7 linked regions of the Homo sapiens genome follow. The protein of the gene in region 7 purifies or fractionates together with the protein of the main gene of each other region. This does not show direct contact. Each region holds a gene or a part of one and is shown on either strand. Other genes may lie near its edges. The genes, in order: SEPTIN2, PPIL2, KIF5A, KIF5C, PPP4R3B, CREB3L2 and KLC2.

What was found.
Region 1: the proteins of KLC2 (region 7) and SEPTIN2 fractionate together in Homo sapiens (co-fractionation; one large-scale study listed by BioGRID). This does not show direct contact.
Region 2: the proteins of KLC2 (region 7) and PPIL2 purify together in Homo sapiens (affinity purification with mass spectrometry; one large-scale study listed by BioGRID and IntAct). This does not show direct contact.
Region 3: the proteins of KLC2 (region 7) and KIF5A purify together in Homo sapiens (affinity purification with western blotting; 3 studies listed by BioGRID and IntAct, with this or other methods). This does not show direct contact.
Region 4: the proteins of KLC2 (region 7) and KIF5C purify together in Homo sapiens (affinity purification with western blotting; 3 studies listed by BioGRID and IntAct, with this or other methods). This does not show direct contact.
Region 5: the proteins of KLC2 (region 7) and PPP4R3B fractionate together in Homo sapiens (co-fractionation; one large-scale study listed by BioGRID). This does not show direct contact.
Region 6: the proteins of KLC2 (region 7) and CREB3L2 purify together in Homo sapiens (co-immunoprecipitation; one large-scale study listed by IntAct). This does not show direct contact.

The regions. Positions count from the first base shown.
Region 1 is NC_000002.12:241,332,642-241,336,742, reverse strand, and holds part of SEPTIN2 (septin-2), read right to left. Parts: intron 1,618-4,101; coding exon 1,531-1,617; intron 1,422-1,530; coding exon of another isoform or gene 1,392-1,421; intron 785-1,391; exon of another isoform or gene 769-784; coding exon 645-768; intron 1-644.
Region 2 is NC_000022.11:21,682,925-21,687,025, reverse strand, and holds part of PPIL2 (RING-type E3 ubiquitin-protein ligase PPIL2), read right to left. Parts: intron 3,845-4,101; coding exon 3,769-3,844; intron 2,274-3,768; coding exon 2,113-2,273; intron 544-2,112; coding exon 468-543; intron 135-467; coding exon 28-134; intron 1-27. UniProt on the Homo sapiens protein: Has a ubiquitin-protein ligase activity acting as an E3 ubiquitin protein ligase or as an ubiquitin-ubiquitin ligase promoting elongation of ubiquitin chains on substrates.
Region 3 is NC_000012.12:57,556,138-57,560,238, forward strand, and holds part of KIF5A (kinesin heavy chain isoform 5A), read left to right. Parts: intron 1-4,101. UniProt on the Homo sapiens protein: Microtubule-dependent motor required for slow axonal transport of neurofilament proteins (NFH, NFM and NFL). Can induce formation of neurite-like membrane protrusions in non-neuronal cells in a ZFYVE27-dependent manner.
Region 4 is NC_000002.12:149,007,254-149,011,354, reverse strand, and holds part of KIF5C (kinesin heavy chain), read right to left. Parts: intron 3,393-4,101; coding exon 3,288-3,392; intron 1,221-3,287; coding exon 1,004-1,220; intron 1-1,003. UniProt on the Homo sapiens protein: Microtubule-associated force-producing protein that may play a role in organelle transport. Has ATPase activity. Involved in synaptic transmission. Mediates dendritic trafficking of mRNAs.
Region 5 is NC_000002.12:55,596,721-55,600,821, forward strand, and holds part of PPP4R3B (serine/threonine-protein phosphatase 4 regulatory subunit 3B), read right to left. Parts: intron 2,320-4,101; coding exon 1,696-2,319; intron 1-1,695. UniProt on the Homo sapiens protein: Regulatory subunit of serine/threonine-protein phosphatase 4 (PP4). May regulate the activity of PPP4C at centrosomal microtubule organizing centers.
Region 6 is NC_000007.14:137,991,756-137,995,856, forward strand, and holds part of CREB3L2 (cyclic AMP-responsive element-binding protein 3-like protein 2), read right to left. Parts: intron 1-4,101. UniProt on the Homo sapiens protein: Transcription factor involved in unfolded protein response (UPR).
Region 7 is NC_000011.10:66,260,248-66,264,348, reverse strand, and holds part of KLC2 (kinesin light chain 2), read right to left. Parts: intron 2,625-4,101; exon of another isoform or gene 2,608-2,624; coding exon 2,377-2,607; exon of another isoform or gene 2,337-2,376; intron 2,227-2,336; coding exon 2,157-2,226; intron 1,536-2,156; coding exon 1,313-1,535; intron 690-1,312; coding exon 602-689; exon of another isoform or gene 499-601; coding exon 397-498; intron 304-396; coding exon 130-303; intron 5-129; coding exon 1-4. UniProt on the Homo sapiens protein: Kinesin is a microtubule-associated force-producing protein that plays a role in organelle transport. The light chain functions in coupling of cargo to the heavy chain or in the modulation of its ATPase activity.

The sequences.
Region 1 (4,101 bases), on a different chromosome or scaffold from region 7:
TCAAGAACAGGTTTATCTGAGCTGGGAAACAGCATTTAACTGAGCTGGGAAACAGTACAGCACTTTCACATGTAAGAAGGGAGAAATTCCTAAATGTAGGAGAAAGATAACAGAACCTTCCCCTTTTCATCTAGTGGTGGAAACCTGATGCTTTATGTTGACAGGAATAGAACCAGGAGGGAGTTTGTACAACAAAAGTGGCATTCTTTGCACGGTACAGGTGACAGACTGCTCTATCTTCTACTTCTTCATTTCCTTATTTGTGAAAATGATGCCAATGAGCAGTCATTTACAGACACTACGACTCAACCCACTCTCTAACAGGTTTCACTTCCTTCCACATAGAAAGGATGTACTACAGTATCTCGGTCACCAACCACGGCTCAAATCCAGGTGTTTCATTTATACTAGCAGTCTATGGATGACTGGCTTTGCGATCTCAAATTACAGTAGAGTACCAGAAAAAAATTACTCTCTATAAAATTCCTTATTTAAAAAGTCAACATTTAACACGCTTTAAATTGTCTAGGTGTTTTATTATATACAGCAATCCCAAACTTAATAATCACTCATTAACACTATCTATAAATTTATGAAGTATATTAAGTAAACAAATGCAGATCCCTGGGCATGGGGGAGCATACCAATCTCTGCAGTTGATAGCGTCACCATAGCCAGGGGTATCTACCACTGTCAGGCGTAGCTTGACCCCTCGCTCTTCAATTTCAACAGTTGAAGCCTCAATCTGGACAGTTCTTTCAATTTTTTCTAGAAAAGAAACAAACTTAATAGGGAATATAAGCAGCATGTGAAGAGGAAAGCTCACGTTCTTACGACAGGTGACTTCAGAGTCTACTGCCTCTCTACAGAGGTAGGTTCTCCAAAGATACCATGGGGATTAAGAAAAAAAGATCCCAGAGAAGTCAGAAAGGGGAAGGTTAAAGCTAAGATTATTGTGCTACTGGGGAAGGTTAAAAACACAAATGTTAAAAATTATAATTTCTGTTCCTGGGAAAAAGAAAGCAATTTACGAATTCATTTAAAAACTGAATTCAAAAATATTCTGAAAGGGCTACATATTCTTGCAGCAGCCCAAGTCTTAGGCTCTCACTATGTGTGCCTATTTCATTCAACAGTCATTTGTGGATGCTGGTGTCCTGTGCTGGAACTTTCTGACAGTAGATGAATTCGAACATCTATCCTAGTAATCTTCTAGTTACACAGCATTTTTGATGTAAAACATTCTCACTTAATCCTTCCATCAAATATTTAATATAGGCAGAAACTACTTATTACATTTTACAGACAAACTCAAGAGAGGATGGATCCATGGATACGTGTCAAAGAAAGTCTACAACCCAAATCCAAGGACCTCGGTGCAGCACACCTACCCCATAAAAGTGTTTTCCTTGTGTTCAAAGCTGAACAAGAACAAACAAAACACACAGCTAAGACATAAAATATTAATTAGGCAGTCTTCAGCATCTTTCATGTAGAATTACACTTACAGTAACATAAGAATGTTTTTACCTGCTGCTCCAGGTATGACTCTTTCTGGGTACAGATCAGTTAGGAATAGGCTGTTTATGAGAGTCGATTTTCCTAGACCTGATTCACCTTTAAATAAAAAGAAAAACCTTGTCATGACCTTATTCATATGACACCATTCAATCGGTTAAGTGTTTACATAAGGCCTGGTACTGGGCTAAGTACCTCACAAACATCATTCTGTGTTTAGTACCTACAGTACTACTATGTTTGCAGTATGATCTTTGAGGGTACTCAAAGAAACTCTAATTTGCCCAAGGTCAGAGTACTATCCAGAGCAGGGCCAAGATTTGAATCCAGGTCTATGAGACTACAGAACTTGAACATCATATAATTAGAAACATAACTGTTCACAAATGTGAGGAATGTACTTTAGAGGTTGGTTTTTATTTTTGACAAATAGAATGCAAAGCAGGTTTTCAATTATCAGTTCTGCTAGTCACTAAACTCACCACATTTTCAGAAAACTGAACATATCTATCCCATAGTGTCAACAACCCTTGTGCTTCCCGAGCTGCAGAAACGTGTGAGCAGGACAGGGCCTGTGGTCTGGTGGGCTCACATGCACACCCTCACTCTGCAACCTCCCCCTTCTGCCACCTTGTCTTCTTCCTGCTTTAAATCCATCCCCGTTTCCCAGCACTGGCAACTGTCATATGTCGGGCAACTTTCCCGCTCACTTTGTTGAGTTCACACGACTAATTCAGGTGACACATATCCATGTAAGCTTTCAATGAGGTGAGAATCTCTCTTGAACTACTGTGACTACATATTCTGAATATTTGAAATTTAACTTCAAAAAAGATGCAAAATACCAAAAATTAAATTTTACATTTGAAGGAAGCACAAATCCCACTGCTTCATTGCAGATGATCATCTAGGTCTCAATTCTGCATGGAGAACTGCTTCTGATCTTGGTACTACTGGTGCTGGACTGTCCTCTGGGTACCCTAAACCACCCTCTGTTAAGTTCTGCAAAGCATGAGGAAGGAGTACACATCTCTTTTGAAAAATTATTTCTGGCTGGGCATAGTGGCTCACACCTATAATCCCAGCACTTTAGCAGACCAAGGCTGGAGGATCACTTGAGGCTAAGAATTCAAGACCCCGCCTGGGCAAAATAGTGAGACCCCCATCTCCCAAAAAACCAAAACAAAGTAAAAAAAACCCCAAAACCTTAGCCAGGTGTTGTGGCTTGTACCTAGAGTCCCAGCTACTTGGGAGGCTAGGGCAGAAGGATTGCTTGAGCCCAGGAGTTAGAGATTACAGCAGGCTATGATCATGCCACTGCACTTCAGCCTAGGTGACAGAGTGAGACCCTGTCCCTTACAGAATAAAACAATTCTGGGAAAATCAAGAACAAATAAGTGAATTTGCAATGTGCAGACGCACAGCCGGGCGCGGTGGCCCACGCCTGTAATCCCAGCACTTTGGGAGGCCGAGGCAGGCGGATCATGAGGTCAGGAGTTCAAGACCATCCTGGCTAACATGGTGAAACCCCGTCTCTACTAAAAATACAAAAAATTAGCCGGGCGTGGTGGCGGGCGCCTGTAGTCCCAGCTACTCGGGAGGCAGGAGAATGGCGTGAACCCGGGAGGCGGAGCTTGCAGTGAGCCGAGATCGCACCACTGCACTCCAGCGTGGGCGACTGAGCGAGACTCCATCTCAAAAAACAAAACAAAACAAAAAGAAACATGCAGACATACAAAATTAGGACTGCATTTTAAGTGAACTGCAATTTTCACACATGAAAAGAACAAAACAATGTGTTGAACATGCCTAAATATGAGTGTAAAAATTTGACTAAATGCCTGTTATCCCATTAAGTCATCCTTTTAATAAACGGTGGTGCAATGCCCCTTTACCTGTTTCTTTAGAAGTCTGACAAAATTTTAAAAACTGCCTTTCCTCTTCAATAGTCTCTCATTTACTAATTAGGTGTGTTAGGGTTTTCCTGATACACCCATTTTTCTTGAGCTATTAATACTACAATTTAAAAGTTGAGGATTCTTGTGGCTTTCTAGTTTTACTTTTCACTACTCACCCTCAACCCCCTACCTGTTTTATTTTAAAGCCACTTTGAGGCACGATTTACAAATACTAAAATACACCCATTTAAACTGTACAGTTTTGACAAAAGTAGATACTCAGATAATCAAACTCCACTCAAGATAAAGATTATTTTCATAACCCTAGAGTTGCTTTGTGTAACTGTGAAGTCTACCCTCTCCAGTCCCCACCGCAGGCAAACACCAATCTACTTTGTCACTATGTATCAGCTTTGCTTATTCTAAAACTTTTAAATGGCATCATACAACATGGCCTGTTTTGTGTCTGGCTGCTTTTGCTCAACAAAGCTCTGAGACTGATGCATGTTGTTGCATCTACGAGTAGTTCGTTTCTTTGTAGTGCTTGGCAATATTCCATTGTATGGCTACACCACAATTTGTTAATCCACTCTCTAGATACCTCTGCTGTCCCCAGTTTGGGGCTATTTTGAGAAAAGTAGCTATGAATATTCATATACAAATCTTTATGGACATGTTTTCATTT
Region 2 (4,101 bases), on a different chromosome or scaffold from region 7:
TGGGGAGTGGCTGGCCTCCACACCCACCAGGTCGCAGTGCAGCTCCAGGTTGAGGTCGCCCTTGTTGGTGTGCAGCCGCACGTAGCCCTTCTTCTTCACAAACTGGTAGCGCAGCACATCCTCGTCGATGGCAGCTACAAGCCAAGGTCCCAGCTCAGCCCCTGCCCTCACCCTGGGGCAGCCCCACCATGCCAGGCAGCACCGACCTCAGACACACAGGCGGGGACTAGGCTCCAGCTCTGGGGAGAGCAGGGGAGCTGGAGGCCGAGGGTCTGCTTAGGCCACGCACAGGCTCACCCCAGCCTCATGGGGCTGGCAGGGGTTCAGCAGCTAAGAGGGGGAGGACTAGGGGCTCAGGTGACAGTGGGAGCCCCTGACAGACCAATAAAGTGGGAGTCGGGGAGCACACCCACCCCCTGCCACTTTTGGGTCACATGGCAGGTGGCTACAGAGGCCAAGGTGGCTACCTGCTTCATGTGTGGTCTCCGGGACCATCGCGGTGGAGGTGAAGGAAGCGCTGACCTTCCCTGTGGAATAGTGGGCCTGCCAAGGAAACCAGGGTGGCACCTCAGCAGTGCCATGGGAGGCAGTTGGGTGGGGACGTGTCGCTTGCCTAGAAGCCAACCACACGCCACCCCTGCCCCCCAGGCCCTGCTTGGTGCCTCTCCTCCAGGAGGGCCTCCCCAACCAGCAGGAGGAAGAAGCCAAGGCTAGGCCAAGCCAGGGTCCCCTGGCCTCCACTGGATCCCGACTCTTATGATATCAGGTGAAACCCTGGAGATAAAATACCACACAGGACTGGCCACCTCAGGGTTAGGAGTGTATGGCTGACTTCTCATTTATTTTTATTTTAATTTTTTTATGAGACAAGGTCTTGCTCTGTACCCAGGCTGGAGTGCAGTGGTGTGTGATCCTGGTGCACTGCAGCCTCCAACTCCTGGGCTCAAGTGACCCTCCGACCTCAGCCTCCTGAGTAGCTGGGACGACAGGCGCATGCCACCACGCCTGGCTGATTTTTTGTAGAGATAAGGTCTCACTATGTTGTCTAACCTAGTCTTGATCTCCTGGCCTCAAGCAATCCTCCTGCCTCAGCCTCCCAAAATGCTGGGATTACAGGTGTGAGCCACCACGCCTGGCCTCATTTCTTTTTAAAAGTTTCAAACTTTCTACACTAAACACATTACATATTTAATCAGGGGTCGGGGAAAAGCCCCAATAAATGTTATTTTTTATCATAGAGGAAGAAAAAGGGGTTTCTCCCATCAGAAGAAAATACAAGCCAGGCACAGTGGCTCACACCTGTAATTCCAGCACTTTCGGAGGCCAAGGCAGGAGGCTCTCACTTGAAGCCAGGAATTCAAGACCAGCTTAGACAACATAGCAAGATCCTGTTTCCAAAAGAAAAAAAAAAGTAATATATCAAAGTGCTAAGGGCAGTGTGTTAGACGGAGTGACACACTGGACAACAAGCTTTCTTTTTCAAATTTTCCAGAATTTGAATAATTCTTTAAGAAGGAGAACTTCAGAGCTACCTGCCCATGTCTCTGCCCTCCCCCTAGCTCCAGATCCCCATGCTCTGCCTGACAGGAGGAAGAAGCAAACACGACAGCCCCAGACAGGTGGCACCGTGCAGTCCCAGGCATGCCATCCACGTCAGCACCGCAGCAGACCATGAAACGCCCCAACTCTCCCTGGCATGGCTTTGGGCCCCAGTGCACATCGGGCCCTGCCCTCCCAGCCACCACAGAACCACATGTGCCCGCTCAACGTGCCTGCCCTGGCTACTGAGCTCAGGCTGGGACCACAGCACAAGGCAGACCTTCTGTGGCAGGGATCTCCCCTACATGCCCCCACACACCCCTTGGTTCTTCAACGACCAGTGTGGACATCAGCCCCTCCCCTTCTGCCTTCTCAGATTCTATCTGCCTCAGGGCAGCCCCAGGGCTGTGCACTCAGAGCCATCAGGGGCACCACAGCTCTGGGGGATCCTGGCTGCCTCCCTGCCGTGTATCCCAGGCCCCCATGAGCCCCTTTCCCAGGACCACTCCAAGAGGCCATGAGATGGGCAGGAAGACGGGGCTTGGGCTTGGCCGAGTGCCCTCCGCCACTCACAGCGTTCAGCTTGTCCACTTTCTTCTTCTCCGGGGCCTTCATGGTGGCTGCCAGAATCTCGTCCCCTTTGAACTCCTTGTAGAGCTCCTGCAGGGTCTCTCGGGTCTCGGCATTTGTATTTTTCAGATAATAAGACGGGTCCTGTTTGGCCTTCTCTTCATCTACAAAACAGTAGCATGGCCCTGAGCCGCCGAGCCCCCAGTAGCCTCCCCACACACGTGCTGGGGACACAGATCTAGAATAGCCCAGGGCCGTCCAGCCATGGCGCAGGCACCGTGCCACTGCCAGCCACAGAATGCCACAGTGCCCCGCTACAGGCCTGAAGGTCTCCCCAGGCAGTTCACAAGGGTCTCAGGATGGACTTCAGGTTGATTTGTATATTTTATATTTATCTGTATATTCTAATCTTTTTAGAGTATACGCTTTGCTTTTTTTTTCTTTTTTTTTTTTTTTTTTTTTGTGGAGATGGAGTCTCGCTCTATCGTCCAGGCTGGAGTGCAGTGGTGCAATCTCGGCTCACTGCAAGTTCTGCCTCCCAGGTTCACGCCATTCTCCTGCCTCAGCCTCCTGAGTAGCTGGGACTACAGGCGCCCGCCACCACGCCCGGCTAATTTTTTTGTGTTACAATCTTGTAACCTCGTGATCCGCCTGCCTCAGCCTCCCAAAGTGCTGGGATTACAGGCGTGACCCACCGCGCCCAGCCTTTTGAGACAGGGTCTAGCTCTGTCGCCCCAGCTAGAAAGCGGTTGCAAGATCTCAGCTCACTGTAGCCTCCACCTCCTGGGCTCAATCGATTCTCCTGCCTCAGCCCCCCAAGTAGCTGGGGCTACAGGCGCACCAACTACACCCAGCTAATTTTTCTATTTTTTGTAGAGACAGGGTGTCCCCATGTTGCCCAGGCTGGTCTCGAACTCTTGAGCTCAAGCAATCCGCCTGCCTTGGCCTCCCAAAGTGCTGGGGTTACAGGCATAAGCCACCACACCCAGTTGCTTTGCTTCTGTAATTTTAAAGGTTATTTTTATTTAAAATAATAGAAGTGTTTGGGGGTCTTTCCAGATGTGAAATCACCCATTCTTGCCGACTCAGGAGGGTGCCTGCTGCCTACTGGGCCTTGGACAGCAGCCCACCCTGTGGAGAGGGGCCGGCATCCCTGTGCAGAGAGCACAGACACGGCCCAGCCCCAACCCTGACCTCAGGCTCTCCTGACTCAAATCTTCCCCAGTTCACGTGCTCAGCCTACCTAAAACCCGTTCAAACAATGCTCACAAAGTGCCCAGGCCACTGCTCTGCAGCACAAGGCCGAGTGACCTCTGAACATGAGTCCTGCTGGCTCCTCCAAGGCTGCAGGACAGCCACCAGAGGCCAGGGAAACAGGAGGACCCCATCACCCCACCACCTGCCCACTGACAGCACCGGCCAGTCTGCAGGGAGCAGGGGAACCTGAGCAGGTGTGCTGGCAGGGCAGCAAGTCTATCCCGCCCATTGTTTCTGAGGCTGCAGTTGGCTCAGATTCTCTGAACACTAGTTCAGAAAATGCAGGGCCTGTCTGGGCTGGGACCCCCTGACCTCCAGGAAAGCGGGGGCTTTACCCAGGGAGCACTGTCCCAATTTCATCCAAAAGCCCCCTCGCCTAGCCCAGCCCCTAGGTGTACATACCTGGGTCTATTATTTTCATGTTATTCTTCACATGATAGAAGTTAGAGACATTGAACTTGTCCAAATTGGTGGGGTCCTGTGGCAAAAAGAGAATGCCCAGCAGAGTGAACCCAGCCTACGGCCAAATGGCAGCCACATGCAGCAAAGGACGGCCAGCTGTCAGAGGTGTGGAAGAGGCCAGGGCTACACTGAGGTTGGGGGAGTCAAGCAGGGCATGAGGGAGGAGGTGGTCTGCCCCAGGCAGGGCAGCAAACAGGGGCAGGGGCAGGGACGGGGACGCAGCCTCGCTAGCTGCTGGCTGAGCTGTGACCTTCCTCCAGGCACATGGCTAAC
Region 3 (4,101 bases), on a different chromosome or scaffold from region 7:
GGGTATCTTTTTTTTTTTTCAGACGGAGTCTCGCTCTGTCACCCAGGCTGGAGTGCAGTGGCGCGATCTCGGCTCACTGGAAACTCCGCCTTCCGGGTTCACGCCATTCTTCTGCCTCAGCCTCCCAAGCAGCTGGGACTACAGGCGCCTGCCACCACGCCCGGCTAATTTTTTGTATTTTTAGTGGAGACGGGGTTTCACCGTGTTAGCCAGGATGGTCTCGATCTCCTGACCTCGTGATCCACCCGCCTCGGCCTCCCAAAGTGCTGGGATTACAGATGTGAGCCACCGCGCCCAGCCCACTCTTGGGTATCTTTTAGACTCAGATCTGAGAATCTCTTCCTTCTTCCCTCTCTGCTCTTTTCTTTCTTCCCAGCCTAGACTGATGTAAAGGGGTTCCTGATGAAAAGGGGCTATAATTGGCTTCAGCATTTGGAGAGCGCTCTCCATTTTAATGCGTCTGTGGAGCCTTCTAGATCCTGTAACTGGGAATGTTTTGAGGGAGTGTGTGTGGGGGCTGGGGTGGGGTGGTTGGTGTGTTGGTGCCCATGTGTTTGTGGGGGGAGGGGAGGGGCAAGATTGGCTTGAGAGTTACATTTAATCCCCTTTGGCTGGGTGCCTGGCTTCATGAAGCATGGATAGAGATTGTTGGTGGGAAAGAGATGAGAAAGCCAGTCTCATCTTTTCACATTTTTCTGCCTGTTTTATATTCTGGCTGCACTGGCAGTTGATTAAATGATGCCCACCCAGATTAAGGGTGGATCTGCCTTTCCCAGTCCACTGACTCATATGTTAATATCCTTTGGCAACACCCTCACAGACACACCCAGGATCAATACTTTGCATCATTCAGTCCAGTCAAGTTGACACTCAGTATTAACCATCACAATTCCACCCCTCATCAACTTGAACCCATACACATCTCCTGAGATCGTACAAATCTTCAAATAAGGACAATAATAAGGTCATAATTATGCGCCTAATATAATACAACTATCCTTCGTACAACCGGAAATGCACCAATCCCCAACCCAAATGCTATTATATAAAGTTAACATACTTAAATGCTGATACGAAGTCAATAAGTCTTATGTCACATAATAAAGGAAAAAGGAAATTAAAAAAAAAAAGATGAGAGGCATTGGCTTGAGATAGACATATTTTGCTTGTTTCTGTTTCTTGGCCACTGGGTGGGAGAAACATTGAGGTAGATTACAATTTAAAATTAATTACAATTCAAAATTAAGGTAGATTTTTCTTTAATAATATTAAAAATAATGTAATTACAACACTAATACATTTTAATTGTTAACAAAGTTCAAGACAAAGGAAAGGACACCGAAGAAGCTAAAAATCACCCAATATCTTACCACCCCAAAGAAGCACTGTTATTAATAATAATTTGATGTATTTTTCCAGTGTTTTTTCTACATATATACATATGTTAATTTTAATAAGATTATATATCATAAACTATATATTGTTTTGTAACCTTTTTTCTCAAACAAAATATTATTACTATTTTGCCATTGTTAAATATTTTTACATAACTTTATTATTTTACAATTTTTCTGTTTTTTTTTTGAGATGGAGTCAGGCTGGAGTGTGCAGTGGTGTGATCTTGGCTCACTGCAACCTCTGCCTCCCGGGTTCAAGCAATCCTCCCACCTCAGCTTCCTGAGTAGCTAGGATTATAGGCATGTACCACCATGCCTGGCTATATTTTACAATTTTCAATTTAACTTTCGAATGTCTTACCTGCACATGTGACAAAATGCAAAGGATATGAAAAGGTTTATATTGTTTCCTTCTCCTTCTCACCCCTCTTTTCCAGCCACACAGTTCCCTTTTCAGAAGGCAACTTCTTGTGGATCTTTCCAAAAACCTACTATACATTTATAAGCAAATACATATATACATGCATACCTTTTTTTACACAAATGGTAGCGTATTATACATCCATTCTGCACCTTTAAAAACAAAAACAGCCTGGGTGTGGTGGCTCATGCCTGTAATCTAAGCACTTTGAGGCCGAGGCGGGAGGATCACTTGAGGTCAGGAGTTCGAGACCAGCCTGACCAACATGGTGAAACCCCATCTCTACTAAAAATATAAAAATTCTGGCTGGGTGCAGTGGCTCACACCTGTAATCCCAGCACTTTGGGAGGCTGAGGTGGGCGGATCATGAGGTCAGGAGATGGAGACCATCCTGGCCAACATGGTGAAACCTCGTCTCTACTAAAAATACAAAAATTAGGCCAGGTGCGGTGGCTTACGCCTGTAATCTCAGCATTGGGAGGCCAAGGCGGGTGGATCACCTGAGGTCAGGAGTTCAAGACCAGCCTGGCCAACATGGCCAAACCCCATCTCTACTAAAAATACAGAAATTAGCCGGGTGTGGTGGCGGGCGCCTATAATCCCAGCTACTCTGGAGGCTGAAGCAGGAGAACTGCTTGAGCCCGGGAGGCAGAGGTTGCGGTGAGCTGAGATGGAGCCACTGCACTCCAGCTTGGGCGACAGAGCAAGACTCTTGTCTCAAAAAACAAAAAGCAAAACAAACAAACAAAAAACCCAAAACAAAACAGAGTCTTGGACACCCTTCCTTATCAGCACATAAAGATTTATCTCATTCTTTTTTGGTTTTGTTTTGTTTTTCAAGACAGGGTCTCACTCTGTTGCTCAGGCTGGAGTGCAGTGGTGCAATCATGGCTCACTGCAACCTTCACCTTCGAGGCTCAGGCCATCATCCTGCCTCAGCCTGCTGAGTAGCTGGGACCACAAGGCCCATGCCACCACACCTGGCTATTTTTTTTTAATTTTTGTAGAGACAGGGTCTCCCTATGTTGCCCAGGCTGGTCTCCAACTCCTGGCCTCAAGGATCCTCCAGACTTGACCTCCCAAAGGGCTCGGATTACACGGTACATGAGCTATCTCATTCAACTGTATAATTTGTTGTAGGGATAGGCCATTATTTAACCAGGCCTCTGTTGGTGGACATTAAGGGTTGTTCTAATCATCTGCTATTACAAACAGTTGAATGACCTTGTATAAATATTTTTTGCATATGTGCAGTATGTCTACAGGATAAATTTTTCGAAGTGGAGGTCATAAAGCATATGCATTTAAAAATGTGAGGCTATTTCCAAATTGCCTTTCACAGAGTTGGCTCCAATTTCTATGTACCCTCAGCAGTATGTGTGAATATCTATTTACTCACATTCTCACCAGTGTAATGCGTTGTCTATTTTATTTTGGCCACTTTCATAGGTAAAAATGGTGTTTCATAGTTTTAATATGCATTTTGCTTATTAACAGTGAGGTCGAGCATTAATTAATATTAATTAATATATTTTAACATTTAGGAGCCACTATAACATCATTTTATGATGTTATAATTTATGATAGTGATATAATTTACATACAGTGTACAGATCTTAGGCAAACAGCTTGATAAATTTTATGACATATGTAGACACCCATGTAACCACTACACAGATCAAGATCTAGAACATTTCTGTCACTCCTGAAAGCTCCTTCATATCCTCTTCCTGTAAATACCACTTGTATGTTGTTACCACAATAGCAGGTAGCTGCTGTTTTGACTTCTAGCACTACAGATAAGTTCTGTCCATTCTTGAACTTCATATGAAGGGAGTAATACAGTATGTGCTCTTTTGTGTTTGGATTCTTTCAACGTGTTTTTGAGATATATTGACGTTCTATTTATTAATGTTCTATTATGATATTTTAATTTTATTTATTTATTTTTTTTGGGACAGAGTTGCACTTTGCTGCTCAGGCTGGAGTGCGGTGGCGCGATCTCGGCTCACTGCAACCTCTGCCTCCTGGGTTCAAGCGATTCTTGTGCCTCAGCCTCCCAAGTAGCTGAGATTACAGGCATGCACCGCTATGCCCAGCTAATTTTTGTATTTTTAGTAGAGACATGGTTTCACCATGTTGGCCAGGCTAGTCTCGAACTCCTGACCTCAAGTAATCTGCCTGCCTTGGCCTCCCAAAGTGCTGAGATTACAGGCGTGAGCCACCATGCCTAGCCAGTTATGGCATTATTTTAAATAACAGTGAGGAATAAAATATATGTAT
Region 4 (4,101 bases), on a different chromosome or scaffold from region 7:
AACATCAATTAGCTCATTTCTAATTTGGGCCAAGAAAAGTTAGAAAAAAAGATTTTCAGTTTCATCTGAAATGGATCGTAGGTTCCCCATGACTTTCAAGGATATCTGTGTAGCCCCTGAAATTGGATGCAGAATTCTGCCTGTGATGCTGTTTTCTGGGGAGAGGGTCCATAGCTTTTAATAGATTCTCAAAGGGTATGAAATCCTACACATGCAATGAACCACTATTCTAAGGTATGATTTAAAACTAGAAACGTGAAACTGCTGGTTTGCAATACATCTACACAGCAATATCTGATGGGAAATAAATTACATGTTATTGGAGATGTTTCAATTTAAAAAAAAAAAAAAGGAGAAGAAGCTGTTTAGAGAATATTCCTAAATTGTTTTTGTCCCTATGGCTATCCTGGGAACCAGGACTCTGGCTACACCCTCATTTCCTACATGGGCAAAATGCCCAAATCCATACAGGTCTTGAAGAGGCTGAGACTCCAGACCTCCCCAGGTTCTGTGCCAGCCTGTAGCCACACCCTGTCATGGATGCCAGCCTGGCTCTTCCAGGGGTATTTCCAAACCTGCACTTGGAGGCTTTCCCTGGGGCTCTGGCTACATATGGGCTCCTTCATGCTCCCACCGGGTGCAGAACACAGGGCCCTTCACACCTTGCAGAGAAATATCCTCCTATTCCAGTATTTCTAAGAGTGTACCCATTTATAGCCCAAGACCTAGGCCTACAGCCTTGGCTGGCTTCTCTCTGCCCAGCTCAGAAGTTTTGAGACCACGATGTATGCTGGAATATCTCAGAGTAGGATAACGGGGGCGCCTGACATTCCCATTCCCACAGGGTGAGCACAGGGTGCGGTGAGGGCTGCGTCCTGCGGGCTCCAACCCAGCCTTTCAGATGTTCCAGAGTGGGCCAGCGCTGTCTTCACCTTTTAGCAAATCTGAGCTGAGAGGCCGCAGTAGCTTCTCAAACCCCGGGCGCCACTGTGCACGCACGTACCGATCTGGGCTGAATGGGCCCTTCTGGCCATGTTCTTGGCCCGCACGGCCTCCTTGATACGATCCACCTCCTGCTGGTAGCGCTTACGGTCCCGCATGGCGTTCTCCTTGGCCTCCTTCAGCGCGCTCTCCAGAGCCTTGACGCGCTCCGCCGTGGCACGCAGCCGCTTCTCCAGCTTGGGCAGTTCACAGCGCAGGTCTGCGTTGTCCCGGACCAGCTGGGGCAGGAGGATAAAGGAAGGGAGTTACTACCAGGCAGGCAGCATTGCACAAACCAGAGCAGCCAGAAGCAGCCCCTGCTGCTGAACAGGTGGCCCCTGCTAGGTTGTCCTTGGCACTCCGTACAACCACAGAAAGGAAAGGAAAACTCAGACTGTGGGGTCCAGGTTCCTGAACACGTGATTCACAGGGTGCAAGGAACGGTGGGGTGGGGATACAATTAAAACCTATTTCCCACCACAAGAAACTTTCCATCTGAGGCAGGATTTACCTCCTCTTCTGTTTGGGTGTGTGTAGAGGAAAGGGGGATTGTGTGAGAAAATCGACCACATATGAGAATACTAAATTAGCATGAGAAAGCTGAAACACTTAAAGTCGGTTTGAAAGGACTCAGTGAAAAACAAGCATGTTCCTGAGCTCTCAGAGGGCTTCCTTCCATGCAGAACCTGCTGTTTACACTGGCATGGGGTTTGGACCCAGCTTTGCAACACATCCAGAGGCTAAGGTAAGAGGAGGAGACTGCGCCTTTTTGCTGATTGAAGAAGCAACAGCCCAGCCCTAGGTAGGAGTGGGCTCAAGGGCCAGCTCTTTATGTCCTGGCCATCTGACTTGGTGTAAGTCATTTGACCACCACAAGTCTCAAGTTTCTCATCTATAACACAAGTGTACTACATAATAGGGGACCCAGATGGATGGAGGGAGTTTTGAAAATCACAAAGTGCTACACCAAAGTGAGCTACTGCTGGGTCTCCTGCTTTGTTCTCCTAGCACCAGCTCTAGTGCCTGGCAGAGAGTACATTTTTAATAAATGCTCGTTCAATCCATGAATAAGATAATGCATTTCAGCTGGGTGCAGTGGCTCACGTCTGTAATTCCAGCACTTTGGGAGGTCAAGGTGGGCGGATCACGAGGTCAGTGGTTCAAGACCAGCCTGACCAACATGGTGAAACCTTGTCTCTACTAAAAATACAAAAAAATTAGCCAGGAGTGGTGGCGCGCACCTGTAATCCCAGCTACTCGGGAGGCTGAGGCAGGAGAATCTCTTGAACCCAGGAGGCAGAGGTTGCACTGAGCAGAGATCGCACCACTGCACTCCAGCCTGGGCGACAGAGCAAGACTCTGCCTCAAAAAAAAAAAAAAAACATTAAAAAAAACAAAAATAAATAAAAATAAATTTTAAAAATGCATCTCAGAGCCCTATTTCAAGCTCCCTGACAGTTTCTGCTTTCGTATTTCTCATCGACAATTTGTTTGAGTGACTTCAACTATCTAGAATCTATCATCCTCTCTCTGGGGAAAAAATGCCATCATCAGTAATATTGAAGAAGACTTAACAAGTCAAAGAGAAATGACATCTCCTCGGCCATGTGGTCTAAAAACTTGGGCCGTTTCCATCATATCCCAATTCCTAAAGAGGGAAAACAGCCATGCACACACCAACATTTAAAAAGAAAGTATCCAAGACAAATGACCTGCTGAAATCACTGGTGAGTTTGGACACAGTTATCACTCTCTGTCACTCTAGACAAATGCCAGCACATCGCAGGCATCCGAGAGAGCATCTGAGATCGCTAGGAATGGGCAGCTGAGCAGAGAGGGTGCTGGTTCCAGTCCCGGTCCTCCCACGGTGCAATGAAGCAAGGCACCAGTCTGTTTCCCCATCTGTAAAAATAAAGGACTTGAACCAGCTCAGTGGTGTCCACTTTCAGGTCCACAGAGGTACCTCAGAGGTGTCATGGGAGACACAGAGGCTAGATGGTGTCCAAAGTCAGGGGTGGAGGCAGGATGAAAAGACAGGCCTCTGAACACTTCCCTCTCCAACCCCAGAGAGCTCAAACCCTATGCGTTATATTTGGCTTTGATAAAAGAAAGTCCTTTATATATACGGGAAGTCACTGAGAACTAAAGGATTTGTAAGGACCTTTCCAGCCCTCATGTCCTCTGATAGTGTACAGTTCTTTTACCTTCAATCTCAGTGCCTTCTCCGCACACTGTGGCCAAACCTGGTGGGGCTTCTTTCCAGGAGAGAGGAGGGAATCAGAGGGGAGCGGGCAGAACTCTCCTACCTGCTTGTGAACTTTGGTGAGCTGCTCCAGGTTATTCTCCAAGAAGGAAATTTTCTGCTTCTGGGCAGCACTGCCCCCTCCATCATCGTTGTCCAACTCCACACTCTGCATTGACACCAAGGGGTCAGCAGGACAGGCTGTCACCCACCCACCCTCCGCCCCAGGATAATGTGGATGGAAAAAAAAAATCCCCATTCCCACCAAAGGGTATTCTGAAAGTGAAAATAGAGGTTCTAAAAGTTTAGACTCAAGAAATCCCCCAATTAATTTCCCTTATTAGTATGAAAAGCGATTTGAGGAGCTAATTTTTAGAGAGCTAAAAAAAAAAAACTCCTTCAAATCTGCTTTTGAAAGTTGTAGATGATTTATCTTCAGTAAAATATACATCTGCCTTTCATGTAGTAAATAGAGACTTCTTTTCAAAAGAAAGCATTCCAAAACTCATTAAGAAACAACAACTGCAAAAACATAAACCCAGGACCTAAATTTGATTTCAGCCATCATGGTGGGACAACAAGTCACCAAACTTGTAAGCAAGTGTCTATGGTCCCACTGGGAAGTCTTAATGGCCTCTGCTTGTCCCTTCAGCTTCCAAATCTATAAAATTAATTAATGAACCAGGCTCAAATTAATCATAGCATCCGGGTGCTGGGTAAATTCTTGAAATTTATCAGATCTTGAAATTGGCAAAACACTGCACTCCTGGCAAGCCGAGTGGCACAGATAAATTGGAAAGTACAGGTCCTAACACATCCCAGTGTTCCAAGGTGGAAAAGCAGGTTTGCTCTGTCTGATTATAGAAGAGATCATCATC
Region 5 (4,101 bases), on a different chromosome or scaffold from region 7:
GGGAGGCCAAGGCGGGCGGATCACCTGAGGTCAGGAGTTTGAGACCAGCCTGGCCAACATGGTGAAACCCTGTTTCTACTAAAAATACAAAAAATTAGTCGAGTGTGGTGGCGTGTGCCTGTAATCCCAGCTACTGGGGAGGCTGAGGCAGGAGAATCGCTTGAACCCAGAAGGTGGAGGTTGCAATGAGCCGAAATCACACCATTGCACTCCAGCTTGGGCAACAAGAGTGAAACTCCGTCTCAAAATAATAATAATAAAAAATAGCTGCATCATCGATATATATAATAGGCAAATTCATAAAGAGTAGAATAGTGGTTACTAAGAGCTGGAAGGAGGGAATATGGGGAGTTACTGTTCAATGGGTTCAGAGTTTCTGTTTGGGATGATGAAAAAGTTCTGGAAATGGATAGTGGTAACTGCTGCATAACACTGCAAATATACTTAATGCCAATGAATTGTACACTTAAAAATTGTTGAAACTGGCCGGGCACAGTGACTCATGCCTGTAATCCAAGCACTTTGGGAGGCCGGGGCAGGTGGATCACCTCAGGTTGGGAGTTCGAGACCAGCCTGACCAACATGGAGAAACCCCCCTCTACTAAAAATACAAAAAATTGGGCTGGGCGGGGTGGCTCACGCCTGTAATCCCAGCACTTTGGGAGGCTGAGGTGGGTGGATCACAAGGTCAGGAGATCGAGACCATCCTGGCTAAAATGGTGAAACCTTGTCTCTACTAAAAACACAAAAAATTAGCTGGGCGTGATGGCGGGCGCCTGTAGTCCCAGCTACCCGGGAGGCTGAGGCAGGAGAATGGCGTGAACCCGGGAGGCGGAGCTTGCAGTGAGCCAAGATTGCGCCACTGCACTTCAGCCTGGGCGACCGAGCAAGACTCCGTCTCAAAAACAAACAAACAAACAAACAAACAAAACTAGCTCGGCGTGGAGGCACATGCCTGTAATCCCAGCTACTCAGGAGGCTGAGACAGGAGAATCACTTGAACCCAGGAGGCAGAGGTTGCGGCGAGCTGAGATCATGCCATTGCACTCCAGCTTGGGCAACAAGAGCAAAACTCCATCTCAAAAAATAAATAAATAAATAAATAGTCAAAACGGTGAATTTTATGTTATGTATATTCTACCTCAATTTTAGAAACACAAATACTAAATTGTATAAAAAGCTAAAACACAGGCTACTTAAAAATATAAAAGGCTGGGCTGGGCGCGGTGGCTCACGCCTATAATCCCAGCACTTTGGGAGGCTGAGGCGGGCGGACTGCCTGAGCTCAGGAGTTCAACACCAGTCTGGGCAACACAGTGAAACCCCTTCCCTACTAAAAATACAAAAAAATCAGCTGGGCATGGCAGTGCACACCTGTAGTCTCAGCTAATCGGGAGGCTGAGGAAGAAGAATTGCTTGAACCCGGGAAGCGTAGGTTGCAGTGAGCTGAGATTGCGCCACTGCATTCCAGCCTGGGCGACAGAACGAGACTCCGACTCAAAAAAATAAATAAAAGGTTGCACTAAAACCACAAGACATAAAGTCCCAATTTCTTTTGTTTACTTTAAATGTACTTAATAGTACATTTAAACAAAATAAATCTTTCAAAAAATAGAGGGTATAAACACCTGCTTGAACTATTAAGGGAACTAAATATCTGAAAAATGGAATCGTGAAGAGTATCTTTTTACTTACCTGCAACATGCTGACTATCTCAACTTTGTTGAAGAAAATAAAAGACGTAAGAGTAGAAAGAAAATTCTCTTCAAAAACAGATGGTGTGGGCAAAATGATGTCCTGAATGTACTGTACCCTGTAAGTCTGATGTATTTTTTGCCTTAGTTCAGAGTCTGTTATTGGTATAACTTCCTTGAACTTTGCAGTTTTGGTCAAGAATTCTCTATGTCTTTTTGGCTGAGCCAAAGCAGGGTCATATTCAAGGCATCCCACGACATCCATGATACACTCATCAGAAAACATTACCTCAAAAAGAGTTGCCTTATTTAGGAATAAGATTCCTCTAATAATTTCATACAAATGGTGTAAGCCTTCAGTGTTTTCTAGGTTCTCGCAAGCTTGGAACAGCTGCAATAGTTTTTTAATATAGCCTTCATTTTCCAAGGCGAGAGCCAGCTTTTCCCTACGGATAGGTGAGGAGAGCACTGAGGTAACTAAGTCAGCAATCTCTTCAAGTTTATTGAGTTCACATGTGGGCAGGTCAATCAGATGACTAGTTTCAGGCATTTCTTCAAATCGTTCTTCTTCAGATTCATCAATGAGGTCCTGTGTGACTTCCACTGATGGGTCTTTACCTTGAACCTAAAAATATCCAAGTATACAGCTAATTACCTTAAAATACAAAATAATTCAAAATTTTGGAAATCAAATCATTTGGAAATGCCTGGCTAGTCACTACTAATTAAAAGTGAAGTCTAGGCCAGGCACGGTGGCTCACGCCTGTAATCCCAGCACTTTAGGTGGCTGAGGCAGGCAGGTCTCTTGAGGTCAGGAGTTCAAAACCAGCCTGGGCAACATGGTGAAACCCCAACTCCACTAAAAATACAAAAATCAGCCAGGTGTGGTGGCATACGCCTGTAATCTCAGCTACTCAGGTGGCTGAGGCAGGAGAATCGCTTGAACCTGGAAGGTGGAGGTTGCAGTGAGCTGAGATCGCACCACTGCACTCCAGCCTGGAAGACAAAGCAAGACTCTGTCTCAAAAAATAAAATAAAAAATTAAAATAAAATAAATAAATAAAATAAAATGAATTCTCTTCCAGCTTGGTCCCTGAATGACTCTCATGAGTAGGGCCCCTTCCCCTATTGGTCAAACAGCATTAAGGAGAAATCAACTTTTGTTGTGACAAGCCATTGAAATTTTAGGATTGTATTACTACAACACAATCTGATCATAACGTCTCAGAGACAGCCAATGAACTCTGCTGTATGGATTCACAATAAATCCACACTATCAATAGGGTTTTTCAATAAAAATTCTCTAGTCTATAATCCTATCGTCATCCCTTACAGCTGCTGCTTTAAATATTTTTTCACTTTCCAACTTCTCAAACATTACCTTCACCTTTAAGTCTCAGAAGATAAGAGGCTTCCTTTGAATAAAAAGCCCATCAGTACTCAACTTCCTCTAACATTTCTCCATCTCACAACTTACCTTCACACATTTCCTTCATTCATTTCAAAGGAAATGTCTATACCATTTCCTAAGGTTAACATTTCCATATGTACTTCTAAACTTATGCTTTCTCAAAGCTAAACATATAAAAATTATCTTTGCTCTTGTTTTTATAATTTATTTCTCTCCAATGGTTCCTTCTATTTCATCATTCTCCAATCCCCTTAAGACACTCTGAACTATCTGAACCATCAAACTTTTTCAGGGAAGCTTTTTTGTTCTATTTTCTCATTATAAGGGGTGGCGGCTCACGCCTGTAATGCCAGCACTTTGGGAGGCCAAGTTGGGCGGATCACCTGAGGTCAGGAGTTCAAGACCAGCCTGACCAACATGGAGAAACCCTGTCTCTACTAAAAGCACAAAATTAGCTGGGCGTGGTGGCGCATGCCTGTAGTCCCAGCTACTCGAGAGGCTGAGGCAGCAGAACTGCTTGAACCTGGGAGGCGGAGGTTGCAGTGAGCCGAGATCACACCACTGCACTCTTGCCTGGGCAACGAGAGTGAAACTCTGTCTCAAAAAAAAAAAAAAAAAAAAAAAAAAAAAAGGCGGGCAGGGGTGGTTAAGAAATAATTAAGTAATATGGCGCTTACTGAAATTGAAATTGTCCTTTCAAAGATCAGTAATGACTTCCCAGAACTGAAAAAGTAAAACATGAGATATGATTTTGTGAAATATCATGCAGTAGTTAGGAGCAAAAAACTAAATACATATTCAGCAACATGCACAGATTTTAAGAAGTAGAGTGCTGCGTTGTACAGTAAAGAGTTAACTTTGCTGGGCTATCAGAGTGCTATCTAATATCCCTTCCAAAGGTGGAAAAGTCTGAATAAAAATCAATGACAAAGAAAAAAATAAAATTTAAAAAAACAATGACAAATGGAAAGGAGAAACAGTAAAAGAGGGAAAAAA
Region 6 (4,101 bases), on a different chromosome or scaffold from region 7:
AAATTAGCCAGGCATGGTGGTGGGCACCTGTAATCCCAGCTACTCGGGAGACTGAGGCACAAGAATCACTTGATCCTGGGACATGGAGGTTGCAGTGAGCCAAGATCACGCCATTGCACTCCAGCCTGGGCAACAGAGCAAGACTCTGCCTCAAAAAAAAAAAAAAGCTTTATCCTCCAAAGAAAAACTCTCTTCCAAGAACTACTGTTAATAATTCTAACAAGAATCGGGCATTAAAATATGGATGGTTCAGAATAACCCATCTCAATTCTTTAAAAAAAAATCCCCAAAGCTCTTCGTAATATCAGTAAAGTTCAAATAAACAGATTACACCTACACCAGAATACAGCAACTCAAAAGCAGGCAATTCAACATGAGGTAACTGTAGCTGAGCCCCAGAGCAGCTGTACACACAAGAGGAAAATATGGTACGTGATCTAAGAAGTTACGTCTCACTTTTGAATTGACCTTCCACACAGTCGAAAAGATTAGACCTACCCCCACAGGATGCCACAGAGGGTTTCCCAAGCCAAAGTACAAGCAAAAGTCTAGGCAAAACACAGCTTGCCTCTAATGAGTGACACGGACTGTAGAAGCAGCTGAATCCCAGGAATGACCCATGAGCTCCTCTTGGGTTTACACTGCAAGAGAGCTGAGTCACTCAACATGCCCTGAGATAAATGGGTGCAGCGATAAGAAGGATCAACATCCCAGCTCTTCTTTGAAACACATCAAGAAACACATGAAAATTCAAGGGTTACCCAGCCAGAGCTGTTCTGCTGCTCAGGTGGACCTAGCAGGCTTGAGTCAAACTCCAAAGATCTGCTTTTCGTCAAAAGACAAATAACAAGTATAAAAAACTGAGAACCAGATGCACTGAAGTTTATAGCAGAGCCCAGGGGAACATACAGAGAGAAGAGAAGGCCAAGTACCAAAACACTCACATTTAACAGCTGGTATGGAAGCCAGAAAAGGAGGAAGAACTAAGCTTGCCAGAGTGTCATGGAAGCCAAAGCAAAAACGAGTTATGAGACAATCCTGTGGTCAGTATTGCCAAATAGTCCCATGAGGCCCTGCAGGTAAGGACAGAGAAAAGACTATTGGATTTAGCAGCCAGGGAGAGGTTGAGCAGTAGGACCCAGCGGGCAGAGGATACAGGGTAGAGACTAAGGAAATGGAGGCCATGGCTGGTGACCACGCACTTGAGAAAACCTGGCAGTAAACAAGAGAAAAGAAATGAGTAAGAGGGAGCATCTGGCAAACATGTGTTCAAGGCAGAGGCCTGTGTTTACAGCACAATGTAGGAGCTGGAGAGGAGAGGAAATAAAGATGCATGAGAGAGAATAATGACAGGCTCTCTCCACTTTCTGAATGATGTCAGACTCCTAAGGTTGGGACACCTTGTTCTCAAAGAGAAGACATTTGACTTAGGGGATAGGTTGGAAAAGTACTTCTATTATGGATCAGGCAGTGACATGCAAAGAAACTGAAATCCAAATAGGTGAAGTAATGTACCCAAGGTCACCAGAGAGCCTGTGTCCCTCAACATCAAAATGGCCTGCCTTGAAAGCCCACCCTTTCCACCATGCCATCAACTCCACTCCCACTGGAAACAGGGACTGTTTCAATCACCCCACGCCCACCTTGTTCTCTAATCAAAACAAGAAAAGATATCAACACTGAATTACCCAAGTCACTATTATACTGAATTTTCACATTTGCAAAACCGTTTACAAGAATCCAGAGTTTATTTGTTTGTTTGCTCATTTATTTATTTATTTTGAGACAGGGTCTCACTCTGTTGCCCAGTCCGGAGTATAGAGGCGTGATCACAGCTCACTGTAAACTCAACCTCCTGGGCTCAAGCGATCCTCCTGCCTCAGCCTCTGAAAGCGCTGGGATTACAAGCATGGGCTACCACGTCTTGCCCAGAGTTTTAAAAATATATAAAAACAGGCCAAAGCCACCCAGCTTATCCATTTTCCAGGACTGCCTCACTCTACTTAACTATGCATCAAGCACTTACGATTCTCTGGGCATCCTGCACTTGACTAAGGACCATGAGGGTATAGAAGAGACAGTCATGTCTCCTGTCCTCAAGGAACTTGTGCTGAGCAAATCTCTACTGCTCTATGTCTTACATTCCCCATAGATAAAATGGCCCATCTTCTCCCATGTGCCTCATGAATAACCTATACAATTTGATTCAAGGAAAAATCAAGATCCCTTAGCACTTCATTTAGAAAGGCCAGGGTGCATCCACTGAGCAGGGAAAAAGAGAAATAGGCTCAAGGTTGATCCAGAGACAGTGGGTCTCATTATTTCCTTTCCATCCTGATTCCACAGGGGCAGAAAACAAGGGCAGCACTCCCTCACTCATAAGATCACTCATTTGGACAATTCAGATGCCCTGCAACCATAGGCCTCAATCCTACCAAATGCCCAGCTAAGGCTTAAGGCTATTTACCCCAAGAGAGTCACCAGACAGCGTAGAGCCATGTCAGGCTGAGGCCGGCAGTTTTAGCTGCAGACAGGCACATGTGCCCTCATCAATATTTGAACAGCCATATGCAACTGGAAAAATTGCTTCTTTGAAAAATGGCATTTAGCTTGCCACCTGCTGTCGATCCCAAACAGAACAAATCATTCTTGTCCTGCATGGTAAGCATGATTACAGGCTCAGCTAGCTACCTCCAGCCCTGGTATTCTACTCTGACGCCAAGAGTCCAGATAATACAGTTAATTCTACATCTCCTAGTTAGTGAGTCAAGACATAGCCATAATCTCCTCCTGGCTCCCACCCCTCCCTAGCCTTTCCCTGCACTTTCAAGAGGCTATTTCTACATCTATAGTCTTCTTTCACTGGGCATTGGTAGCACAGCTAAATAATATTCTTAGAACTTTGCTGGGCCGGACGTGATAGCTCATGCCTGTAATCCTAGCACTGTGGGAGGCCGAGGCAGAGGATCCCTTGAGCCCAGGGGTTCAAGACCAGCCTAGGCAACATAAGGAGACCCTGTCTCTATTTAAAAACAAAAAACAAAAGAACTCTGCGAGTGGCACAGTACTTGGGTTTACTGTTTTGCGCCCAGGGCAAATTACTGTGAATTTTAAATTTTCTAGTTGCTAGCCCATGTTCATGAGAAAAGAAACATACCTTTTGACTAAGGAAAGAATTGTTAACTCAGACTATTTTACTAATGATCCCAATGGTCATGCTGGTTGAGTCTCCATCCCCATATGATTAATCTAAGCTGATAATATAAATCCCATTCTCCTTTCCAGCCATTGGCTTAAGAATGGTCATATGACCGAATCCTTACCAATAAAGCTTTAAGAAAAATCAGCTAGTGGGCTAGTAAGAAAAGTTTCTTCCATTCTAAAAAAGGGACACAAGAAAGAGACAACTTCTCTTCTTCCTCTGGATGTTGTCATTTTGAATGTAACCCCTGTAACTCCTATGTCCATCACACATCCAACCTGAGGATGAAAGCTGCACATGGGCAGAACCAAGGTCCATTGAGGAACTGCTGAATCAGCCAACAAGGAGCTCTATTTCTTTTTTTTTCTTTTCTTTCTTTTTTTTTTTTTTTTTTTGAGACAGAATCTCACTCTGTCACCAAGGCTGGAGTGCAGTGGCATGATCTTGGCTCACTGCAACCTCCACCCCCCAGGTTCAAGGGATTCTCCTGCCTCAGCCTCCCGAGTAGCTGGGATTACAGGCGCCCGCCACCACGCCCAGCTAATTTTTGTATTTTTAGTAGAGACAGGGTTTCACCATCTCGGCCAGGCTGCTCTTGAACTCCTGACCTTGTGATCCACCTGCCTTGGCCCCCCAAAGTGCTGGGATTACAGGCGTCAGCCACCGCGCCCGGCCAGGGGCTCTATTTCACAACCTCTTGCAACATGAGATAATTTACTTACTGTATGAGCCGATCTGAATCCATTTTCAGTTACTTCTAGCTGCAAGCACTGTAATTAATTCAATTATTAATCTAGATGCTATATCTTATAACTCCTGCAAAAGCAATGTCACATCAGAGACCCCTGTTTCCCATGAACACTGTAACTCAGGGATCATTCGAGAAGGAGGGCAAATAT
Region 7 (4,101 bases):
AAGCCTGGAAGCGGGAGACCCAGAGAGTGAGCGGGATGCATGCAGCCAAGCCTTTTTCTCTCCTTCTTCCCCAACCTCATCCCTGCCTCCCTCCTTCCCATCCTCCAGCTCCTCTCAGCCCCAAGGTACCAGGTTGTTCTTGGTCTTGGCCACATTGGGGTCATCGGGCCCGAGGCGTGTAGCATAGATCTCCAGTGCCCGCCGATAGTAATATTCCACCTCCTCAGCTTTGCCCTGGTTCTGGCACAGCAGGGCCAGGTTGCTGAGCTGCTTGGCCACATCTGGGTGAAACTTGCCCAGGACCTGGGATGGGAGAGGGAGCCAGGGGTTGGGCTCAGGGCTGCCCGGGCCCCTGCCTCCCAGACCCCCAGCCTGCCCAGCCCTGCCTGTTCCCACCTTCTCCCGGATCTCCAGTGCCCGCTTGCACAATGGCTCAGCCTCCTTGTACTTGCCCCTCTTGCCATACAGGACTGCCAGGTTGTTTAGTGTCGCAGCCACCTGGAGGTGGGAGAACGGAAGCTTCTTGACTCAGGCCCTGCAGGACTCTGGGACCTGCAGGGGATGGGGCACAGCCCCCACCTCCCACCCAACCCTCACTCACGGCTGGGTGGTCCTTGCCCAGTGTTTTCTCCCGGATGGCCAGAGCATCATTGAGCAGGTGGGCAGCCTCCTTGTACTTGTTCTGATCCCTGGGAGCAGGTAGGAGCATGGTCAGGGCTGTCCTCCAGCTCAAGGCCCTCCCCAATGGTCTGCAATCCCTGTGGTCACTCCTGTACTCACTGAGTGTGTATGACAGAGTGAGACCCAGAGTGTGGGGAGACCTGCTCAGCTCCTGCTCTCCAAGCTCCAAGGGCTGTAGGCAGTTTTCTCACAATTGGCTGGGGTGCGCAGTGCTGGGGTCCCACCGACTGCCTGGTGCCTAGCATTCCTGGGCGCCACATGGCTCTCCTGCTGCCCCTTTAGCGTGTCCTGCTCTCCAGGTCCCAGTGCCTTTGCTCATGCTGGCTTTTTGCCATGGGAACCTTTTCTAGCCCTCTTGTGTTTGGGCAAACTCACTTTCTGGCAAAGCCCCTCCTCCAGCCTTGGTGCCTGGAGAAGCTGTGTGGACTCCCCAGGACCCCTGGAGTCCTCATGTGCAGTCCCTCCCCAGTTCTGGCCAAGCCTCTCTCTTACACTAGACAGTTTTACTTGCATCTGTAGCCCAGCTCCACGCAGGTGGGCCACGAGTCCTGGCCCACAGCAGGCACCAAGGGTTAGTGATCCAGGGCTGGAGCCTTCCAGAAGAATTTGGGCACCCCCAGAGAGTCCTCACCGATAGACCAGTGCCAGGATGTTCAGCATGGTGGCAACGTCAGGGTGGTCGTGGCCTGACGTCTTCTCCAGGTCTTCGAGTGCCTGCTTGCAGAGTGGCACAGCTACCTCGTAGCGGCCCTGTGAGGCGTATTGGATCACCAGGTTGTGCAGGGTGCGGAGCCGGGCCGGGATCTCGTAGCCCCCATGCTGACCAGACACATCCCCTCCTCCTGGGCTAGGGGCTGCAGGGCCAAGGGCAGGAGGTCAGATGTACCATCTGCCCACTGGACTGGGATGGCACATGCCAGCTGTGCCTTTGAGCCACTTGACACATGGCCCTGGGCAAGTCACTAACCACTCTTTCTCAGTTTCCCCATTTATAGAATGGGTCTAGTTACCCCATAGAAAGAGGGGGTAGAGGCCCAGCTCCAGTACTTCAGGCTCTGTGTCCTGGGGCAAGCTGCCTAACCTCTGAGCCTGTGTCCCTGTGTACAGAGTGGAGGCCCCGATGCATAACCAGTACCATCAGCAAAGCAGGCACTGGCCCCATTGTGGCTGTCTGCATGTGCCTCCTTCAGAGGTGATTCGGAGAGGAAGAGAACTCTCCCAAGGGTCAGGGAAGCTAGTGGCAGAGCAGCACTGGAAGCCAGGCTGGTGACTCCACAGCTAATTGTGATGTCTGCTCACCACAGAGCTGGGGGGATGTGAGAAGCAGCAGCACGTACAACTGTTCTTGAAGCTCTAACACACTAGGATGTCATGATCAGAAGTGAGGCAGGAAGGAACATGGCAGCCACTCGGTCCCAAGGACCAAGAGTTCACACAACCTTTCCTTCCCCCACTCCAGAACTGCCCATCCGCACCTGGGCTCTGCTCATCCTCATTGGGGAACAGGTCATCCAGTGTGTCTTTGGGGACGTCCCCCTTCTCCTCCTGGGAAGGAAGACAGGATGAGCATCAGGGAAGGAGGCACAGGGCAGCCGGGGTGTCCATGGGCTGGGGTGGAGCCGAATCTGCTCCATGCTGCCCCTCCCTGCTCCCAGGCCTCCTTGCTGGGCAACAGTGACCATGGTAGGAGCTCACGTTAGGGGAGGCGTCTTCATCCAACTTGCGGATCTGGCTCATGAACAGCAAGTGCTGCTTCTCCTCCTCGAGCTGGGCCACGGCCTGCTCACTGCGCTGCAGCTTCTGCTGTGTCCCCGCCAGCTCCTCACGCAGCCACTGGTTCTCCTGCACCAGACGCCGCACCTGCGCCCGCAGCTTCTGCTTCTCTGATTCTACAGCCCCCAGGTGGCTCGACAATGCCAAGATCACCTGTGCAACCAGCCCAGGTAAGGGTCGGAGGCCTGTCGACCCCCTCGCCTATGACTGTAGCCTGGGCCTAGTTGGGCTCTGGCACCCAGTGAAGGGCCAGGCCTGGCCCTACAGTGAGGAGCTGCAGGTCTTTTCTCTGCTTGTCAAGGGAGAATCTCCTCAAGGCCCCCGACACACCATAATGCAAAGCCCAAACCCAGGAGGCTTGGGAGTCCCCAGTTCCTTCCTTCTAGGATCAGGAGAACCCCAAAAGGGCTAGTTGGGGTGCTGTGCTTTCCCTGAGCTACTAGCCCCTTCCTTCGTCTCTCCCTGGGTTGTACTCAAGCCTCTGCTGCCACAGCCAGTAGGTTACTGCTCCCTGCCTCAGGGCTAGCGCTTGCCCACAGAACTCTGCTAGATGGCTGAAGGACCACCCAAAGACTCCATCCCCACTTCTGCTGAGGGGCCACAGCATCCCCTGCCTTTCTGCAGCTCCCAGGTAGGGAAGGGGCATGTGTCCCAAATGCTCAGTTGGCATGAGGAGCCACAGGGGCAGGAAAAGTATCCAAAGGCCTTGGCCTCAACCCCCACCCCTCTCCCCAGCCTCTGCAACTCCTTTCCTTAGTTTCCAGTCTCTTCCTGCCTTCCTGCCTAGGGTCCAACCTCCCTTCTTGCTCTCTCTTTTTTTTTTTTTTTTTTAATTTAAGACAATGTCTCACTCTGTCACCTGGGCCGAAGGGCTATGGCACCGTCACAGCTCACTGCAGCCTCTACCTTCCAGGCTCAAGTGGTCCTTCCCCCTCAGCCTCCTGAGTAACTGGGACTACGGGTGCACACCACCACAGCTGGCTAATTTAAAAAATTTTTTGGCCAGGCACGGTGGCTCACGCCTGTAATCCTAGCACTTCAGGAGGCTGAGGCGGACAGATCACGAGGTCAGGATTTCAAGACCATCCTGGCCAACATGGTGAAACCCCATCTCTACCAAAAATACAAAAATTAGCTGGGTGTGGTGGCGCGTGCCTGTAGTCCCAGCTACTCAGGAGGCTGAGGCAGGAGAATCACTTGAACCTGAGAGGCAGAGGCTGCAGTGAGCTGAGATCGTGCCACTATACTCCAGCCTGGGCAACAGAGCAAGACTGTCTCAAAAAAAAAAAGAAAAATTATTTTTTGTAGATACAGGGTCTCATGAAGTCCGGGATTTAAGCAGTCTTCCCACCTGGGCCTCCCAAAGTGCTGGAATTACAGGCGTGAGCCACCACACCCGGCCTCCACCCTTTCCCAGTCCTTCCCGGTTCAGGATCATTTCTGCAGTTGTGTCTCCAGCTAGTCACACCTCCCACTTTGCTCCAGCTTCACACATGGCCTTGATGCCCATGCCCTCCGTGCAGATTGTTCCCCCTCTGTGAGAGTGCACGTGCTCCACCAGGTGTGCGGCCCCTGAGTGGTCCTCTCTACCTCTGACGGCCAACTGGCAGGGAGTGAATGTCCTTGCAGAGGGCCAGGCTGTCTGAG